Regions from separate parts of the Homo sapiens genome. Here region 1 is linked to region 2. The links come from fine-mapping of genetic effects on gene expression. A gene starts in region 2. The other region holds a variant in brackets. All regions are shown on one strand. Distances are from middle to middle. Region 1 overlaps RCHY1 (ring finger and CHY zinc finger domain containing 1). Region 2 holds the start of RCHY1 (ring finger and CHY zinc finger domain containing 1).

What was found. PIP is the estimated chance that this variant, and not a neighbour inherited with it, causes the effect.
Region 1: its variant is fine-mapped to the expression of RCHY1 in non-classical monocytes (Schmiedel 2018, PIP 0.95).

The regions. Positions count from the first base shown.
Region 1 is chr4:75,477,569-75,488,757 of GRCh38, reverse strand. It overlaps RCHY1 (ring finger and CHY zinc finger domain containing 1), which reads left to right. Exons shown (of 9, transcript NM_015436.4): 9 at 6,092-9,725. The coding sequence ends at 6,220. Among named protein-coding and RNA genes, the nearest start is that of RCHY1, 31 kb to the left of the region's middle. The variant G/TG (reference allele first, on the strand shown) is at 5,874.
Region 2 is chr4:75,508,896-75,520,084 of GRCh38, reverse strand. It overlaps RCHY1 (ring finger and CHY zinc finger domain containing 1), which reads left to right and starts at 5,682. Exons shown (of 9, transcript NM_015436.4): 1 at 5,682-5,888; 2 at 10,789-10,908; 3 at 11,150-11,189. The coding sequence starts at 5,799. It overlaps THAP6 (THAP domain containing 6), which reads right to left and starts at 5,612. Exons shown (of 5, transcript NM_144721.6): 1 at 5,565-5,612; 2 at 4,553-4,652; 3 at 3,106-3,313. The coding sequence starts at 4,632. RefSeq lists enhancers at 4,917-5,136, 4,712-5,642, 5,477-5,956, 5,643-6,573.

The DNA.
Region 1 (11,189 bases), 31 kb after region 2:
GATTTAGGAAGGGCCAGGTGGCTGTCCAGGTTCTCCATGAGTCCATGCTTAACATTGGATTTGTGTCCTCTTAAATACCAGGTTAGGTGCCTACCACTGATAACTGAAGGGTTATTATAGGTAATTTGACTTGGATTGTGGAATTGATTGAAATCTAAACAATTTCAGTACTGGCTGCTTTAGTGTGAAAATCTGGCAAAGTATTTTCTTGGTATTCAATCAATTTTTATCCTGCTTGGGTTGGCAGTTTTATAAACCAGTCAGTCTCTCCATTAGAGTTCTAGGAATTGTTATCCAGTCCAAGTCCTAAAGTTGTCAGAAGTCTATATTTAAGAGAGTTTGTCAGGGTCCTTTTCATCCTTTCATGAACCTCCTTGAAGACACAGTACTGTAGGATTTTGCTTGCTTGTCTAGTTTTCAGAGAAACTGCATCAGAATTAAGCAGTTAACTGTGGAAACAACTTAAAATGGTTATAGTTAAAGACATGATTGACAAGGAAATTTGGTTATTTCTGTGGCCTGCAATAACACAGTAACCATAATTAAGACTGATAGCATATACCCCGACATAAAGAATTTTAGAATCTCATATAATTTTGGAATAAATCTTAATAAAAATATAACACAAAGGTTAAATATCATTTCTTATTTGACAGTGCTTCCTATGTAATTTAACAGATCAAATAATCATTTTTTTCTCTTTTGAATACCGCAGGGGCCCTTTGTAGCATGCCAAAGTTAGAGGTAAAAAAAAAAGACTTAATTTTGAAGTTGAAATTTGATTTTGGGAAGCTTGTCAAGTGTGTCGAAGATTTAAAATACTTGACCAAAATAGGATCACATTTATATATATGAATATATATATGAATATATATATTATGAATATATATTATGAATATATATATTATGAATATATATTATGAATATATATATTATGAATATATATTATGAATATATATATGAATATATATATTATGAATATATATATGAATATATATATTATGAATATATATATGAATATATATTATGAATATATATATGAATATATATTATGAATATATATATGAATATATATATTATGAATATATATGAATATATATATTATGAATATATATGAATATATATATTATGAATATATATATTATGAATATATATGAATATATATTATGAATATATATATGAATATATATATTATGAATATATTATGAATATATATATTATGAATATATTATGAATATATATATTATGAATATATATATTATGAATATATATGACTATATATATTGTGAATATATATATGACTATATATATATTTATATATAGTCATTTATATAGCCAATATGAGAATTAACAGGTTTTAAAAAGCAAAAACCTTTACTCTTCGAAACTCAGTTTTCTAAACAATTAAAAGTCCTGAGACAGCGTGAGACAAAATCTGTTTCCCCTTGTCTCCTCTTTTTATTGTTTGAAATTTACCCAAAAGTAAACAAAAATATTTAACTGTCTTATTAATACTACATGAAATCTTTGTTCAAGAGAGAAAACCAGATTTTACTTTTGTATTGTTAGGACTAAAGCGAATTTTAATAAAACCTTGTAAACAAATCCATCCAATCTGTCAGTTTTTTACCACGTAAGATTTCCATAAATCTTTTATATTCCCTTATAAACTTTTAAAATTCTTTCTTTTGAACGTTCTGTATTTTAATCTACACTTTTTTATTCCTTCAATTTGAAACAACCGTTAAGTAACTTCAAACTAGACCAAAATTTTTTTTTTAGACGGAGTCTTTCTCTGTCACCCAGGCTGGAGTACAGTGGAGCAATCTTGGCTCACTGCAACCTCTGCCTCCAGGGTTTAAGCAATTCTTCTGCCTCAGCCTCCCGAGTAGCTGGGACTACAAGCGCACACCACTACGCCTGGCTAATTTTTGTACTTTTAGTAGAGACGGGGTTTCACTGTATTGGCCAGGCTGGTCTCAAACTCCTGACCTTGTGATCTACCCGCCTTGGCCTCCTTGGCCTCCTGAAGCTGAATTTTTTTAAATACATGCCTTTGCAACTTGTCTTACCAAAAGTATATCTTGCTTGTTTTTACACTCCTTATAGGGAATTGTTTTTCTTACATCTAGTAGTTTTAATTACATATATTAACTACAGTTTTAACTCTTAGTAATCCTAATTTCCAGTGAAAACCCTAGGAAGTAATTTTGAACTGTTTTGTATCAGTATTTATAGATGGAAGCCATTTTAATTTTTTGGAAGGATGTTTCCTTAAATTATTATTTATTAAGATATCTAAATATATTTAGTTTTTCTATACTATATAAAAATAAGATGCCAAAGTATATAAACTTAAACTTATAATTAATGTTTTAGCATTTTAACTTATAAATGACTTAAAAGTTTTATGATTATTTACTTAAACATATGACTATAAGATTTTAAATTACTGAAAAAAAATTTGAAATTAGGACACAGATGTACCCTCCCGAATGTTTTCTCAGTCATCTTGAGTCTCAAGTAGTCATATGTCAACCAGGAGGGCTATGAAGGGCAGAGCCTGTCTGAGTCCTGAATTTACGTACCACTTACAGAGCTTTGAACAGAAGACAGAGCTGTAAAGATGATGCTTGGAGGATGGAACCCCTCCTAGAATAGCCAGGAGGCAAAGCTAAGACAGGGAAGAAGAAGCTCTAGTGGGCTTGATTCTGCTTTGTAGCTACAGGTCTAGGCACTGAGAACATGTACCCAGGTCTCACCTAGCCAGACTTGAGAATCTAGAGGTTCAAAACCCAAAACAAGCTCACAGTCAAATCAAGCAAGTGTTGAATTATATTCAACAGACACCTCTGAAGCCATTCCTATTTACTAACAATATAAAAACTGGCTTTATTTACCAAATGTTATCACATACACATAACACCTATAGGAATACAGACACAGACAGAAGCAGATCTTAGAGCTTTCCTAAAGGATTCTCATTTGCTGGCTTTTAAATAGTTTTTCTATTCACCATTCAGACTATCAGTTTACCAATTAACCTGTTTCATTGCCCTAAGCAATTGTTAGCTAGGCAGCCCTAAATATGCATTTCTAAAGGGCCAATTCTTAGGTCAAACAAGGTAGAAAATGTATATCTCAAAAGCACACAGCTAAGACTTTAGACGTAAATATTGTACCATCATTTGCTCAAACCAAGGAAAAAATGGTGTGAGTAAAAGTTAAGACAAGATGGCCAGTCACCTTAAACAAAGGTATGACTTACTATATAAATTTAAAATAGTGATAAGAGTTCCTAATGTACACAGACACCTTTACAAATGTAAATTTCCTTTATAGATATAAATTGATTTTACCAAAAGGGTTTCAGGATAGCCTTCAGTATAGCCAGTTGAATGCCAGAAAGGTATACTTTAGTTCCATAGATCGTTTTTAAAAATTTAACTACTGTTTCTTAGCTAAAATTACTGAGTTCAGGGTGGAGCCCACTAAGACAGTAGGGGAAAGACAGCGTTCTTTTTTATTGTTTGCAGTTTACTCAGAAATTAAACAGAAGTATCTTAGTGTCCATGTCCATGCCTGGGCACAGTATGGATAGATCTGAAAAAGAGGCAAGTCAGCTTTACCTAAGGGCCTATATTTTATAAACATTTAATCCAGGCTAGCTTTCTTTTAGCCTTCAGGGCAGTATAGTAACTAAGCCAAAAGGCTAGTAGATTTAATTTGTCTTATCAGTTAGTTAAGCTTTTTATTTGCCTTTTAAAACATCTTTTTTTTAAGGCAATAAAAATATTGAAATATTTTTAGAAGCTTCACTCAATAGGCATTCTTAGATGAGTCTAATTTGGGAGCCCTCATTTTCAAATGCACTTTTTTTTTTGGTTTGGTTTTTAACAGCTTATGGCCATCATCAAATGCACTTCTTAAAGTGTAGTTTTAAGTGTTCATTTGGGACGTTCCATTATAATTTTAAATTACTTTTAGTAAGGTTTTGCCATTTCTATAAGCAAATGGCATTTTATCCTTCTATAAAATGTTTAAAAAGTGCTGCTTCTGGGGCCTAATACTTACACTTGTAAATGTAGGCAGAGCCAGAAGGTAGATTGCTCAGTTCTTCAGAAATTAAGGATCCCATTTTCACCTTGAATCTTGGCTTTGGCTCTCATATTTCCTTGGTAAACTTAACCAGTGATTTTTCTCTACTTAAATGTGCAAGAAGAAGAATTGAAGAGGGCAGGACACAAAAAACCCTGTGAATTTCCAAAAGCCAAAATTTGCACCCCCACCCCCTGCTGTTTTGCCATTTACTGTGCTTCTGCCCGACCCAGTCAGGCATAAGAGGTCTTTAGCTAGATCCAAGGCAGTTGGATCCTGGACCCAGTCCAGTTTTTGTTGCGACTTCTGAATTCAGTTCAGATAGAAAATGTGTTCAAAAAAACTTGGATAGCTCAAAACACAAATGCGCAGAGCTTTAGAATCTGAGAACTTACCATGATTCCTAATGGCTGCAAGAGAGCAGTGGACACAAAGGGCCTAACGGTACCTTACTGGGTCCCCTTGGTGCTCCTGGCGGTCACTGAAAGCTGTACTTCAAATCCCACTTCTGATGCCAGCTGTTTGAAGCAAAACCTTACACAAATTAAATTTAACAGAACTTAATTGAGAAACAGTTTGTGAATCAGGCAGCCCTGAACCAGAATAGATTCAGAGGGTCTTGACTTTCTTTATTTGGTTGCAATTAGCTTGCAACCTAAAGCATAAAAGGTTGTTTCTGTGCCTTTTGGCTTATGGAGAGTGATCATCTTTTTTCGTTTAATTAAGATGTGTTGCTGTCTCTTCTCAGCCATACATGGTATTGAGTTTTAGATTAGAATGGGAAAGCCTAGTATTCTGGCTAGATAATTTTTGGTTATATTACACATTTTCTGAACATCTTCAGATACTTCAGCATACGAGGATAAAAACCACGTAGCAAAGCCAAATGAAAATTATTTTTTGTTTTATTTACACTGGAGTGTTTCATAATTCATGTGGATAATTGTTAGGGCAATGAAAAATCACTTTTGGAATACTAACCGATAATCATGTGATTGACTAGAGGCCGAAGTGTGCTATGTTCCATGTAGATAATTTTTGGAAATAATGGCTTCATTAAGATACAATTCACATATTATATAGTTCATTCATTTAAATTGTACAATTTGGTGCTTTTTAAAATATTCATGTAGTTATGCAAACATCACCACAATTTTAGAACATTTTTATCATCCCAAAAAGGAAACACTCATACCCATTAGCAGTCATTCCCTAACGCCCCAGGCCTAGGCAACCACTAATCCACTTTCTCCATTTAGATCATATTTTTTAAATAATTATTTTCCAAATTATAATTTAGAGCAAATTTGGAAATTTTCTGCTTATTATAGTGTGACTATTCAAAAACTAGTGCTTTTCTTGCATAGTAATGTATTGATTTTCAGGTTAACACCTTTGTTATTTTTCAGGTTCTTACTTAGCACTAGAAGAAATTAATTCTTAAACGGCATCTTATTGTTATTGTAGGGATGAGCGAAGAGCCTCTCTGTTTACTCAATTTTAGGAACACTCTTTTTGGAATTTAATTCATTCCTAAGGCAGAGAAGACAGGGAACAGTATACTAAACCTAAAAAATAAGCAAAAATATTATTTGTGTAAAAATTTTGGTTTTATTAATTGAGATACATTTCTGACTGAAAAATAATGAAATCATGTTGTTATTTTGAATTATAAGTATCAGGTATTCATCTGATTATGCCTAGGTTAATTTTCTTGCTTGTACTATTTATACTATTTAATATTTGGAAACTATTTTAAAATAAGCTTTTTTTTT[G/TG]CTCAAATCTGCCTTTTCATTTTCTGAATTCAGAGCCACCTTAATAGCTTTTTAGAGTTTTCAGTGAAAAAATAAGAAGAAATTTCTACTTTTGGAAATTTTTAGACTTATGTATGTATTTTCACATCTTTAATATGATTTTCAAGGGATTATGAGTAGACAATGCTACTTGTATTTATAAGGTTTAAAATACTTAATTTGAATTAATCTCTTTTCAGATTCTCTGCAATGACTGTAATGGACGATCCACTGTTCAGTTTCATATATTAGGCATGAAATGTAAGATTTGTGAATCCTATAATACTGCTCAAGCTGGAGGACGTAGAATTTCACTGGATCAGCAATGACGAGCCTACACAGTACTGGAGAACTTGGCATTTTCTGATATAGAAAAAGGCTTTCCTTGGTATCGTGTTATCATGTGTCGTCATCTATGCATTAGAGTTGATGTGTTTTGTACTAGTGTCACAGCATAAAATCATATTACAAGTACGTAAGGATTCAGGGTCTCTTGATAGACTTATCATAGCTCTATATTGAATGAAAGCCACTGTGCTTGTGTTTTGATTGGAAATTCCTTTAGTGTCAGTTTTTTGGAAGCCAATGATGTTTGCCACTGATACATTCATAGAAGTGTATTATATTTTCATGAAGCTTTGCTTTAAGTGACACTACGCGTGCAGTTCATTTCTAGTTCTTGATAGAACTGCACTTAATTTTCAGTAGTAGTCTTGACTTTTTAAGGGCTGTGTTATATTAAGTTCTCCCTTACTGTTAAAACCTAATTAAATATGCTTTAGAATTTTCTAAGACAGTCCTCTGGATCCTCTAAATGTGAATTTTGATGTAATAACTGCTAATAAAATTATATTGAAACTGTTTTATAGAAAGTTTTTTCCAAAGTTTTCTATGTTTGGCTCAATTAGGGCAGTATCATCAGTTCTATAATGTAAAAGAAATTTTCTTTCTTTTGAGGTATTCCATAAAAGTAGTTGGGAAAATTATTATGTAAAATAATAAGACTCTTCCAAAGCCTTAATAAAAACATCAACATTGAAAACAGTTTTTTTTAGGTTGCCCAAAATTATTTCTTCAAAGAGTCATTCATTCCTTCATTTAGCAAGTATTTATTGAGCAACTGCTATGTGGCAGATATGTTTCTAGATGCTGTAGAGACAACAGTGAACAATAAAGATAAAAGTCCTTGTCCTCACAGCAGTACATTCTATTGTTCATCATATTTGATCAATGTACTCATTTTTCTTTATGCAAGGAGTGGATGTCTTATTGTAAATGAATAGAATATTTCTTCCCTAAGCGTGTGAAAATAGGGGATGGATGAGTGGGAAGGGCATGGGATATTCCTGGCAAGATCTCTGATTTCATAATACTTTTTTGGGCTCATGTAGTGGAATTAAATATACCTCTTACTTCAGGAACAAAGTTAACAAATATGTTTGATGATCCAGCCGACTTTGACACTGTTATCTCCGTAATAGCTTTACCATTAGGCTAGGATGTAAAATGTACATTTATCAGTTGATAAGTACCTATTGAGCACCAGTTGTATTTCCAACTTTGAGCTATTTGAATCTTCTTTGAATAAGGAAGTTAGCCTTTTAACTAGAAAGCCTAAGAGTTCTGGCACATTTATTTCTTCTTTTGTTGAAATTTATTCACCTAGATAAAGGCAGCAGTTTGGGACTCAGATCTTTATTTTATCCCACCTTCTTGTCTTCTGTATTCCACTCTTCTTATGTTCTTTCCCTTCATCTGTTTCCTTGGCCTGGCCAGAGCAGCAGTGCTGATCTTCATTTGGGAAAGGATGTTCCTGGGTATTACCAATTAGTATACAGATAAGTAAAGACTAGTTTTCCAGATCTAATACTTTTTTTTGAAGTGGTTTTGCTCTGTCATTTAGGCTAGAGTGTAGTGAAGTGATCGTAGCTCACTGCAGCCTTGACTTCCTGGGCTGAACTGATCCTTCCACCTCAGCCTCCTGAGTAGCTGGGACTACAGGTGTGTGCCACCATGCCCAGCTAATTTTTAATTGTTTTGTAGAAACAAAGTCCAGGCTGGTCTTGAACTCCTGGGCTCAAGCATTTCTCCTACCTCGGCCTTCCAAGGGCTAGGATTACAGGCATGAGCCACTGTGCTTGGTCCAGATGTATTACTTTTTATGTTTGGTATTATTCTGCCAAACCAATCATGTTATTGTTTTTAATCATTGAATCATTGGATCTTTAAATAGGAGTGAGTATATAATAATAAGGCTCTTCTGTTTTCAACATCTGTGCTGGGTCATGCATTAGCATTAATTACTACAATGATTCTGTGGGGTAAGTGTTGTCCTCATAGACAAGAAAGCTGAGGTTTAGAGGTTAAAATGACACATTGGGGGTAAATAACAGACACTATATGTTGGAGTTGGGAATCAGATCCAAGTTTGACTCCAAACCCACTTTTACCACATTGCTTTTGATCTAAACTTCTATTTTGCTAAAATACCCCTCACAGCTAGTCATCCATATCATTGAAGCGCTCATGATTTGATAGATTAACCTTTCATTTTTTTAGGTGACTCTAGTTAGAAAGTCTTATTTCACAATCTGATTGTTTCTTTAACTTAGGATCCAAACATGTCCAAAATAATGCAGAGTACATATGCAATCACTCGTTTATGCTGTCTAGTCATGCACTTAAAGCAATTTTCAAATGTACTCAAAGTCTCTAGGCTTCGGTACCCAGGGTTGCTTCAAGTATTTGTTCATGACACGTCAACTCGATGATTAAAATCCTTCAACACTTCTCATTCACAATAAGAATAAAATCTACATCCCTTACCATTCAGTATGCAAAACTTAAAATACATAACTTTACCCTTAAATATTTTTTCTTTCTCTGACTTCATAAGTATAGGTTATACCTCTATAAGAAAGAAGGTAAAAAACTCTCAACAATCCCTTCTTTCAGAGAGAACTACTGTTAACATTTTAACAGACAACTTCATTCTTTTCCTATTCTTTTTTATAATGCTTACAGGAATGTTAAATACTTAGACAGATCTTAAGTACACTAGAATTATCTGTCCCTGAAATAAGTTAGGTTGCCCTGCCGCAGAATTTGTATCTATAGTTTATTTGGATTATTTTTGAAAAAAGTAAAATAACAATACCCTTACGAATTTTTTGGTGCATAGCATCTCAGCTTCTTTTATCATTAAAGATGTATGTATAAAAAAAAAATGAGTGTATATCAAGTTGTTCATTTCTTAGTTTCTGGGGTCTTCTTAACCAGTACATAGAACTCTTTATGAATTAACTTTAGCTTATGTTGGAAGTAGTAGTTTGTTTATAGTGTCATGGATTTTAAAATCAAACTCAGTTTTTATTTCTTCACTAAAACCTATTTTCATATGATATACATGTTAAATTTCCCTTTTATTTTGGTCATGCATCAAAATAAATTTACTAAGTACTAAAGAGCCAACATTATTTTATAAGTGCCTGGCAATAGGTATTCACTAGTTGAATAGTTTAATTTGAAATGAATTAATTTTAAATGGGAGTTGTTCAAAACTATGCCACTTTTTCTTTTGTCCTTTGTGTTATTAAAATTTAATTGATAATTGTGTATATTATATATATGGAGTACAATGTGATGTTTTGATATATGTTTACAGTGTAGAATGATTAAATCAATGTAATAAATTTATTGCCTCATACCATTTTTTGTGGTAAAAAAACCACTTAAAATCTACTCTTAATATTTTTGAAATGTACAATGCATTATTTATTATACTCACCATTCTGTGTAATAGATCAGTAAAGTTTATTCCTCTTGTCTAACTGATATTTTGTACCCTTTGATCAGCATCTCCCCTTTTCCCATCCACTTCTCTCTCCCAGCCTCTGGTAACCACCATTCTACTTCTATGAATTCACCTTTTTTTTAGATTGCACAGATAGCTGAGATCACATAGTATTTACCTTTTTGTGCCTGGGTTATTTCATTTAGTATAATGTCTTCCAGGTTCCTGTCACAAGTGACAGGATTTCTTTCTTTTATAGGGCTGAATAGTATTCCATTGAGTATATATGCCACATTTTGTTTTCATTCATATGATGATGGACATTAAGATTGCTTCCATATCTTAGCTGTTGTGAATAATGCTGCAGTGAACGTGGTGGTACAGATACCTCTTTGACACACTGACTTCAGTTCCTTTAGCTATATGTCCAGAAGTGGGATTGCTGGATCATATGGTAATTCTATTTTTAGTTTTCTGTCTCCATGCTGATTTTAATATTGGCTGTTTTAATTTACATTCCCAACGTCAGTGCACAAGTGTTCCCTTTTTTCTACACCCTGTCAACACTTTTATCATTTTGATAATAGTAATTCTAACAGGTGTAAGGTGATACCTTGTGTTAATTTGCATTTTTCTGATTAGTGATGATGAGCATCTTTTCATATATTTGTTGGCCATTTGTGTCTTTTTTAGGAATATCTGTTTACATCCTTTGCCCATGTTTTAATTGAGTTCATTTTCTTATTAGTGGCTTCAGTACCTTATGTATTTTGGATATTAGCCCCTTATCAGATGTATGATTTATAAATATTTTCTTCGAATTCATGGGTTGTCTCTTCATTCTATCATTCACTTCACTATGCAGAAGCTTTTTAGTTTGATGCAGCGCCATGTATTTTTTGTTGTCTGTGTTCTTGGGGTTATATCCAAGAAATCTTTGCCCATACCAGTGTTATGGAGCATTTCCCCTGTGTTTTGTTCATGTAGTTTTATAGTTTCAGGTCTTATGTTTAAGTCTTTAAACCATTTTGAGTTGATTTTTATATGTGGTGTGAGATAAGGATCCAGTTTCATTCTTCTGCATGTGTATATTCAGTTTTACCAACACCATTTATTGAAGAGACTGGCTTCATTGTGTAGTGTTGGCATATTTATTGAAAGCCAATTGACTATAGGTGTGTTGGTTTATTTCTGGGCTCTCCTGTTCCACTAGTCAACATATCTGTTTTTATGCCAGTATCATGCTGTTTTGATTACTATTGTTTTATAATAGATTTTGAAGTCAGGTAGTGTGATGCCTCCAACTTTGTTCTTTATGTTTAAGATTGCTTTGGCTATTCAGGTCTTCTCTGGTACCATACAAATTATGGTATTGTTATTTCTATTTTTGTGAAAAATGACATTGGAATTTTGATAGGGGTTGTTATGAGAAAAACCTGGGACTATAATGTTCCAACTCAAAGTGGGAAGGAGCCGAGAGACCAAAGAATGACTGGGACAAGTCC
Region 2 (11,189 bases):
CATCACTGGCCATCAGAGAAATGCAAATCAAAACCACAATGAGATACCATCTCACACCAGTTAGAATGGCAATCATTAAAAAGTCAGGAAACAACAGGTGCTGGAGAGGATGTGGAGAAATAGGAACACTTTGACACTGTTGGTGGGACTGTAAACTAGTTCAACCATTGTGGAAGTCAGTGTGGCGACTCCTCAGGGATCTAGAACTAGAAATACCATTTGACCCAGCCATCCCATTACTGGGTATATACCCAAAGGACTATAAATCATGCTGCTATAAAGACACATGCACACGTATGTTTATTGCGGCATTATTCACAATAGCAAAGACTTGGAACCAAGCCAAATGTCCAACAATGATAGACTGGATTAAGAAAATGTGGCACATATACACCATGGAATACTATGCAGCCATAAAAAACGATGAGTTCATGTCCTTTGTAGGGACATGGATGAAACTGGAAATCATCATTCTCAGTAAACTATCGCAAGAACAAAAAACCAAACACCGCGTATTCTCACTCACAGGTGGGAAATGAACAATGAGATCACATGGACACAGGAAGGGGAATATCACACTCTGGGGACTGTGGTGGGGTCGGGGGAGGGGGGAAGGATAGCATTGGGAGATATACCTAATGCTAGATGATGAGTTACTGGGTGCAGCGCACCAGCATGGCACATGTATACATATGTAACTAACCTGCACAATGTGCACATGTACCCTAAAACTTAAAGCATAATTAAAAAAAAAAAAAAGATGTGCCCCAAAATGTTCAGAGCTGCACAATTTATAATAACCCCAGTGTGAAAAACTACCCAAACATTTATCAATAGTAGAATGAAGAAATTGTACAATGCAATACCATACAGCAAAGAAAATTAATGGACCAGTATCTCATGCTACAATGTGGATGAATCATACAAGATGTTGAGCTAAAGAAGCCAGAGTACATACTGTAGACAGGACTCCATGTATATAATTGACAGTGATAAAGTCAAGACAGTAGTGACTGGGAAAGCATGTGAGGGAGGCTTCTGGGTCACTTGCAATGTTTTATATCTTGGTCTGAGGGGAGTGACATGAGTGTACCCACTTTGTGAAAACTCATTGATTTGTACACTTACAAGCACTCTTCCACAAATATATTTTACTTCAACATAAAGTTTAGTTAAAAAAAAGTGATGTTCTACATAGGTTTCTCTTAAACATGTGATCCATAGATCTGCAGCACAAACAGATTGGGATGCTTTTTTAGAAAGTACACTCCAATTTACTGAATCTAATTCTCTGGAAGATGTAGGATTCTGTATTTTAAACAAACTCACTGGATAATCCTTACGTAGACTAAAGTTTGAAAGCTACGGTGTAGGAAAATATTTAATGTCATGGAGAGTAGTAGTTAATAGTAGACTCTGAAGTCAAAATGCCTGGGATCAAATCTAGCCTCTGCCATTTAATAGAGGTGTGACCCTGGGAAGGGCATTCTAGTTCTCTGGGCCTCAGTTTTCTCAAGTGATAAAATGAAAATAATAATAGTATTTACCTGACATGGTTCTTTCAAGGACTGAGTTAATAGACATGTAAAGTACTTGGAATAGTGCCTGGCACATAGTACACACTATTTTAAAAAACCCAATAAAGCAAATAAAGGAAAAGGTATACAGTATAATTCTATTTCCAGAAGATTATCTATATAAGTATAGATGCATATTTACGGATAATTACAAAGATACAGATCAAAGTGTTCACAGTATTATCTATGGATTATGTGATTATTTTATTTTTGCTCCTATAATCTTATTTTCTAAAATGAAAAATTTATTTGTTATAAGAAAATCAATAGTTTTTGAAAGTTGGTAACTTATGGTTTATTTGATTTATTATGCCCATATTTCTTAAGGTCCCCTTAACATTACGGCTAGATGACACCTTGGTGGTAGGAAAAAAAACAAAAGCCCTAGACCAACTTTCCCAAGATACTGTATATTTATTAGCACCGAAGAAAGTGAGGCATTCTCTACCTGATCACTCAGGTTCTACAATATGACCAACTGCAGAAAGTGACCAGGACTGCATGGGAGCGGGTACGCTTTTGGCTACTTCTCTTGTTTTTAGTTGCCAGGAAGGAGATCCCTTTCAATGGAGGCTCTCCCTGAATTTTCCACATTGGAATCAATCAATCAATGTCTATAGGTTCTAGAAATTCACTTTCAGGTATACAAAGTCAAGAGAGATACTGAGGGTGAGGCAGCCAACCCATGGGAATATTACCCAGAAAAAACATGGAATTCAATTAGCGTTTACTTATTTGACTGTTCTTTCTTTTCCTGACCTTTTCTTCTCCTGTTCTTAGATCTCTTTTTTGGTTTTCTTCCTTTTGATCCTACCTAGACTTTATGCTTGCATGTATGTGGCTCTTACAAGTACTTTAGTCCTGTTAGTGGTTCTACTCCTGACTTCTGCCCCAGTGTTAAGGACTGCCAACTTGGAACATCAGTTCAACCTTCTTACGTTAACTTCCATTTTTAGACAAAAATCTTCAGTTATGCTAATTCCTAAAGTCAGCCCACTTCATCAAACCTTAGTAATATACAAATATTTATGAGTGGTTACTGGTAAAATACTCCTACTACACATTACAAAAGTTGAAGATGCAGTCTACAAATTTAAAACTTCAAGAACAGACTTCAAATGAATAAGCAAACAATAAAAATGTTAGCAAGAGTGGTGAAGGTTCTTCAATAGTATCATAAAAAGTGAGCAATGGCCAGGCACGGTGGCTCATGCCTGTAATCCCAGCACTTTGGGACGCCGAGGAGGGTGGATCACGAGGTCAGGAGTTCAAGACCAGCCTGGCCAAGATGGTGAAACGCCATCTCTCCTAAAAATACAAAAATTAGCCAGGTGTGGTGGCAGGTGCCTGTAATCCCAGCTTCTCGGGAGGCTGAGGCAGAGAATTGCTTAAACCCTGGAGGCAGAGATTGCAGTGAGCTGAGATCGCGCCACTGCACTCCAGCCTTGGTGACAGAGCGAGACTCTATCTCAAAAAAAAAAAAAAAAAAAAGTGAGCAATGATGGTAAACAGTATCTCATAAACAAACCTGTAGGTGATATGGAGAATCAAAGATAGAAGGTATGACTCCAGGTTTCAGTTTAATATTTGGAGCACTTCTGTCAAAATCTGTCTTCTTAAAGTGCCTCGAACACAACACATCTCCTTTTTTAGGCTCCCAAATGCCGGCTGCATTCACATCAAGTCTTTTCATTGCTAATACCCATTTCCTTTTGATGTTTTCATCTGTGGGGAATCTAGAAAAAAAATACAAAAAATATTTTAAAATCAAATACTATTGCTATATAATTGAATTAAAGCTGCCTTATACAACTGTGACTAAATTGATTCGTTAACTAGTTTATTAGTCTTGAGAATTATAATATTTAGGAAACCATAATTCATGCTTTTGTTACTTTCCGTTTTAATATTCAGATTTTCTGCCAATCATGCTGCAGATATATGGCCCTCATTTCATTTTTTCTCACATTATAAGGAAGAAAAGTTTCAATGGATATTTAGCATCTTATAGTAAGATCCACAATTGAAGGTATTTATTCATCTATAGATGATAAAAGAATTATCACTTGGGCCTTTTCCTATCTGAAATGATATCCAGAATTTATCCTCGATAAAAAGGGCCCCTTGTAATTCCATTCTTCTGTCAGCACCAGAAAATTGCTTAGTACAGCATTTAATACATAGCAGGTCTACAGATGCTTAGTGAATGAATGCAGAGAATAGCTGCAGTGTGGAGTTCTGGAGATCAGAGCTATTTTGAGAGATATGAAGGCCTAATAGCCATATCTTACTCAATTTTCAAGCTGGTTCAAATTTTTCTAAAATAAGGTAGGATATATATGCTCAGTTTTGATTTATTATATCTAACAAAATAGCTAGGAGATCTTTCTCTAACACATAGGACAGTGCCTGGCACAAAAGCAGCAAAATAAACCTTTAACAAGTGAACAACTATTAAATCTTATTACTCCTTCACTTACTCCTTCATGGCTGTCAAGAGAATGGCTAAAATATGAAACTAAAATCATTTTGATTTATTTGCAACACAGCTAAAGATCCCTTGGTCTTAACTTGTAATTTGTATTTTTTCTCTATAACCTATGCTTGATCTACTTCTAAATAGAGAGGGCAATATATTCGAGCAAAGCTCCTTCATTCAGATTGTAAACTACATGTAAACAACATTGAATTTCTTTGGCGGTGTGATAAAATACAAAGTAATAATATTAGCAAAAGTTAGCCTTATGGTATTTTTTGTAAACCAGTCTCTGATATCTTAAAGTCTCTGATATCTTAAAACTTTTAAACTAAATTATAAACATGTAAAGGTATCACATTGTCACTTCAAATTTAACAAAAAGGTTATTTAAAAAGGACTCGGGAACTAAAGTTCAAAATTGAAGACTTAAGTAGAACTGTCTTTTGCTTTTTATAACATGGCCAAAGTATTTGGCTTAACTACAGCAAAATCTTACACGTGAAATGTCAGTCCTTTTAACTTCGAATTTGGCAAGCAGCGAGAAGCACATCCAATGGCGGAGCAGCATTTCACCATTTTAGCAACTCATAACAAAACTGAAAGAAAATTAGAATGTTAAGAGTTAGTAACCGGAAAGCTGAAGGGGAATATTTTCCCTTTCCCGGTGTTTTAGGAAACACAAAATCAGGATAGAAAGCTAAAGACAAATATCTTCTTCTAACACCTGCAGCTTTGCTTACATCATTTTCCAGGGCCTTGACTCTTTAATAAGGAGAAACATATTTAGCTGTGTACCCCGAGTATGATTTCAATTTTGTTGGCTTGTACATTTTCCTTCCACCTTCTAACAGGTACCATGTTCTTTGTGCCACAAAGCCTTTTGCACACTAACTCCTACCCATCTTTCAGCCCTCGGCTTGCATCGCTTCCCCAGGGAAGCCTTCCCTCACTGACACTCAGATTGTCAGAGCTGCTCTAATATTAGCTCTCACAGGACACACACTTCTTCCTAGCACTTCTCCAGGTTGTAATCTTACATTTATTGCAGTGATTGCTCTTATTAATGTCTTCCTCCTCCACCAGTCTTGTTAGTTCCATGAGGTCATGGTGGAGTGTGTCTATTTTTCCTTACTTTTTGTCCTCACGGTTTAGCTGGTGACTGGCAATAGTGAATGTCAGTACATATTTTGAAAGAACAGCAAGTAAACGGGAAAGGGAGGAAGCAAGAAGCACTTCGAGGTGCCAGCGAGCACCCTGGCGTCCAAGAGCAGCGCGCGGGACCCGCTGAGCCCAGGGCCCGGGCCGAGCTCCGCCCCTTTCTCCAGGCTCCCCGCCACCGGAGGGAGAGAGGGAGGACCCGTCACAGGTAACGATGCGCCCAGTGAGCGTCCTTTCCTCTGGGGCCAACCAGCGTCTCCGCGCCGCTGCCGCCAACCTCGCGCCGAACTACGCCCTGAGATTTGGGCGGGTAGCGATTGGGGGAAAACAGGCAACCTAAGAGTTATTACCGTTAGCAGCGAAGACTGCGACTAACGTCAACGACGGAGACTGCGTCTGCCTTCGCTTCCGCCTCGTAGCCCCGGGAACCGGAAATCCGTCTGCCCCGGGTCACGTGCTTAGGAGCCATATTGTCGCTAGTGGCCGCTGGGGCTGGGAGGGGTGTGCTAGAGAGGCGCAGCTTCTCTGGGCGTGGTTTTTATCCTGGGGGAAGGATCGGTGGAATGTGAGGGGAGGTGGAGGAGATGGCGGCGACGGCCCGGGAAGATGGCGCCAGCGGTCAAGAGCGAGGTCAGCGGGGCTGCGAGCACTATGACAGAGGATGTCTCCTAAAGGTGACGCCTTCTATGGACTCTTCCCTGACAAGCTTCCGTCAGGTTGGGCTGGGGCGGGCTGGGCAGGTGGTTAGGCTTGGATTTAAGTTTGAGGTTAACCTGATTTTCAGGATACCTTTTCCACCTGGAACTGGGTTCTTCTTGAGGAGAACGTTTTTGGCAAGGCGATAAGCCCCACCTTTCCTACCTGCTTCGTACCTTTAAAGCAAAACCCTTCTTGGGAAGTGATTAGGCTTGCACAGTGGTCTCTGCCAGTGGGCTTATTCGTCTTTTGCTGCCGAAGTAGACTGAGGCAGCCCCGGGCCTGTACTGGGGTTTTCCGTTCAGGTGTGTGATGAAATAATGGAAGTGGAGATAATGGAAATAAGCAAGTGGAGAACCCGAATACGATTTCAGCTCCTGTGGTAAAGTTTTATAGCCTGCCAGCTTCATGTTAAAGGCAGTGCACATGTTCAGACGTAGGAGAAAACGTGTGTCCCAAAAAAGAAGACAATCATGTAATTGCCATTAAATAGGAAATTATGCATAGGAAAGTGCCTAATAAGCATGTATTGTTACTCTGAGAAAACTTCTTAATCTGTATTTTTTTTTAAATTGGCACGTATTCAATTGAAGTTTCCTGATTTTCCTTGCAAGAAACAGTACAAAAATTTTGCTTAGAAAACTTGAGCTTTGGAACCTCAACCGCCCTATCCCCAAATCTTAGCTCTCCTCTTTAATAACTGATTTTAGCTAGCTCCTCTCTACCCCGTATGTAAAATGGAGATGATCGCGCCTGTTTCATAAAAGTGTATGAGGATTATATACTAAAGGGCGTGTATAGTGTTTAACAGGGCGCATTCCCTGAAGTAAATGAGTAGTAAATATATACCACCATGACTGTTACTATCATCGTCAATCTGAGTATTATTATTTTTTGTTCTTTCACTTCACAAGTCAGCCTTGCTGGTCACTGCCTCATTATTAGAAGCAAGTTCAAGTCTCAGGCCTGTACGTGCATCCTAAACTCTTTTCTATAGGTCATGGCTTGACGAACATTGCTCCACTGAACTGGATGAAGCTCCTTAAAAATGTTGGTCATCCACCAAGTGTTGTGTAAGGAAATTGAATGCTATCCTTATGATTCAATTTCTACTGAGATGTATTATTATTCTTTCAAACTTGAGGTCTAAAACGGAATTTAACATCTTGGTGCCCCCCATAAACCACACAATTAGATCTGTGTATCATAGCACTAAGATACTTCGCCCTAGGTGTCAAACAGTTTTTGCCTTCCCCCGCCCCCCCCCCCCCCTTAAATACCAGAGGCCAAGTGAAGTATTTCAAGGAGGATGTGGTCAGCTGGGTCAAATGCAGCTGTTTGAGTAAGATAACTGAGAATTGCCCTTTGGATTTGGCAAGGAAGAGGTCACTGGTGATCTTGACAAGAGGAGTTTTAGTGGAGAGATCAGGATTAGAGTGAATTTAGGAAAGAATGGGAGGAGTGGAATTGAAAATAGCACTTATAGGGTATTCTTGGGGTTTAGCTGTAAAGGGGAGCAAAAAAAAGATGTGGTTGCTGGGAGATCTGGCACCATATTTTTTCCTCTTTAAGAGAGGAAGTATTACAGCATGTTTGTATATTCTAGGAAATGATACAATAGAGTGAGAACGTTTTATAATGCAGGAGAGAGTGAGAAAACTGTAAGGGCATTGTCCCTGAGTAGCCAAAGGGGATGAAATCCAGTGCACAAGTGAAGGAGTTGGCCTTAGAAACATAGACTGTCAGTTCTTCCTAAGGGAAGGCAGAGAATGAGGTATATTTGCAAGTAAGTTAATAGAGATAATAGGAGGATGTTCTTTTCAGGCCTGTCAGCAGGAAGTATGTTTACTGTTTTTATAGTGAAATAAGGTCATCAGCAGAGTGTTAAGGAGGAAGAGTTGTTAGAGTTTTAAAGCCAGAGGAGAAGAAGTGAAATGATCATCTAAATCTTAGGTCTTAGACTCTGGAAGAATGAGAGAATTGACCAGGGAAACGTGGTAGTAAGTGTCCACCTCATATGAACCAGCAAGGACGGTGATGCTTTTTCTCTAGCCATATTCACCTGCTTCTGATAGAAGTCAAATAGGATTTAACTAGGGTTGGGATTGTTATCTATGAGTGTAGAGGAACTGAGAAGGGAACTAGGGTGTTGCAAGGGGAGACTTGGAGTAAGTTAGGGAGGAGGTAATGGTTAGAGAATTTCATGCTTGGAATTGAGATGCAAAGAGGGTGCCGTTGTTCTGTAGCATTGGTTTTCAAAGTGTGGTGAATGGAACCCTGGGGATTCCTGAAGTCCTTTCAGGGGCTCTGCAAGGCCAAAACTACTTTCTATGAACACTAAGATATTTGTTTTTTTTTTTTTTCAGTCTGTTGACACACGCATTGATGGTGGAAAAGCACTGTTTAGTATTGCTAGTATCTTAGCTTGAATCAAGACAGTGGCACTGAACTATACTACACCTATAGTTTTTTTAAAAAGCCAGCTTCACTTAAAAATGTTGATAAAGCAGTAAAATCGTTAATTTTAACCAAATCTCAACCCTTGAATATATCTTTTAATATGCTGTTCAATGACATGGGAAGTTTTGATCAAACACTTCTGCAAACTGAAATTAGAGGGTTGTCTTGAGGAAAAGCTCTTGTGCAAATTGGATTGTAAAGTGAACTAGTTGCTTTTTTTCATGGAACAGCATTTTTTACTTGAAAAAATTGTAGTCATTCACATTTGGGTAGTTGGCAGACATTTTCTCAAAAAGGAGAAAAGTGAGACTCACTACAAATGAAAATGACAGTATTTGTTGCCAGTGATAAAATTCAAGCTTTCACACAAAAATTAGAATTTTGGAAAACTTTTACTAGCTTTTGTGAGGTTGGAAGCTTTTTAAAAGACTTTTTTTGGTGAGATTTTCTTCAATACCTAAAGACTTTTAATGAATATGATTTTTTGATATTGCATGTTAAATGTGTGAACATTTAGAAGATGTAAATAACTCACTGAACTGGTATTCTCCAGATGACCAATGCATGAGTAAAACATCCATTTGAAGTGCAAGATAGAGCAATAGATTTTAATGTAACCAAGGAAGAAAAGAGGCATCATATCAATCATATTCCTTGATACGATTTCAGATTTCATGTTGCAACTACCCTTTAAGAGTTGTTGTTCTAGTGTAATATCAGAGAATGATATCCATAATTCTCCAAAAAGGCTATTAAAATACTCCTTTCTTTTCCAGTGTACATATTTGTGTGAGGCCAGAGTTTCTTTTTGTACTTCAGCCACAACTGTTTGAATGCATAAGCAGATAGAAGAATTCAGCTGTTTGGGGGGAAAAATATAGTTATTTTTCATTAAAACATGTTATTTATGTTAACAAGTAATGAGTTTGTTACTTTTAAAAAGAAGTAATATTTTAAAAACCTATTCTTTTTAATTTATGATGTGGTATATGTCAATAGATAAAATCCACATAAACCAAAGCTCTTTGGGATTCTCAGTAATTTTAAAAAGTGTGAAGGGATCCTGAGACCAAACCATTTGAGAACTACTGTTCTGCGGTATAACTATGAGAATAGTGGGTTGGAGGACAAGGTTATTGGAAATGACAAAGTTAAGGAACTGAGAGTTGCAGAAAAAGGAAGCCAGTTAAGTGTTAAAATCTTTAAGGAATGAACTACGTTATGGTAAGTCAAGGCATAGGAAGCCTTCAGAAATGAGTGGATCTGCAAGGTCACAGTGTATTGGAAAGTCACTGGCCTGGAAATCTCTTGATATACTTGTAATGGTAAAGTTGCTGTAATGAAAAAACCCAACAGTGATGTAGATTAAAGAGTAAAGGTTTTATTTCTTTCCATTTAACAATTCCAAGGCGAGTGATGCAGGTTGGTGATGAGGCTTTGCTCCACATGGTCACTCCAGGGATGAGATTTTTCTGTTGTATCATTTTGTCATGTTTTAGGGCATGTGGCCATCTGTCTGATATAGCTGAACAATTGTGCCCAGGAAGGAGAGGATAGATTTTGGTGGACAACTGGCAGTCTTTGCCGTGTTTGAAAACAAGGGCTGTCTCTTACATTTGTTGCATTTTGTGCAATATTAGATATGAGGTTGATGATTAATAAAAGCTAGTAAAATAAGAATATAATCTTTATTATTTTTAATGTAAATGAATTTATCTGGAAATGTCTAAGAAGAGGTTGCCTGTTTGCTGTTTAGGCTCAGAATGAAATTGGGGTGTTATATTAGTCTGTTTTCACACTGCTGATAAAGACATACCCAAGACTGGGAAGAAAAAGAGGTTTAATTGGACTTACAGTTCCACATGGCTAGGGAGGCCTGAGAATCATGGCGGGAGACAAAAGGCACTTCTTACATGGTGGTGGCAATAGAAAATGAGGAAGAAGCAAAAGTGGAAACTCCTGATAAACCCATCAGATCTCATGAGATTTTATTCATTATCACGAGAATGGCACGGGAGAGTCTGGCCCCCATGATTCAGTTACCTCCTTCTAAGTCCCTCCCACAACACGTGGGAATTCTGGGAGATACATTTCAAGTTGAGATTTGGGTGGGAACACAGCCAAAGCATATCAGGTGTTGTGGGATTAGTGTTTCAATCTAGGGATTTCCTTCATAATTCTTTTGTTTTAAAGTTGTGTTCAACTTCATACAGACGTAGTGATGTTGAAGGGAAGAATTAACATAAAATATGCCAAGAAACTAGTGAAATGTTATGTTTAGGATCAGTTTAGCAACTGATCTATTGGTTGTAATCTTTCAGTTCCATCCAGGAGGAGGAGGAAGAAATTTTCTTTTTGTATTGCACACTTAGTTTCTTTTGCTTCTTACTATATCTCTTTTTTCTCCGTGGGTGTTAGGCACCTTGCTGTGACAAGCTTTATACTTGCCGCTTGTGTCATGATAACAATGAAGATCATCAACTAGATCGCTTTAAAGTGAAGGAAGTGCAGTGCATAAACTGTGAAAAAATTCAACATGTAAGATTTTATGACATTTCTATTTTCTTTTTAAAAGCTGTATTAAGGTGGTTTGAAAAAATTTAATCAAAAGTATCATAAATAAGATTTCTTTAACTTCTAGAATAAGCAATATCTTTGGTTTAGGTGTTTCAAAACTTATAAAAATAAACTGCATATAGTTGAACATAAGTTCTAGATATTCAAATGGTAACTCAAAATGTTTAGTTTATTGCAGTTTTTAATTATGTTTCTTTTTTAGGCCCAACAGACTTGTGAAGAATGTAGCACATTGTTTGGAG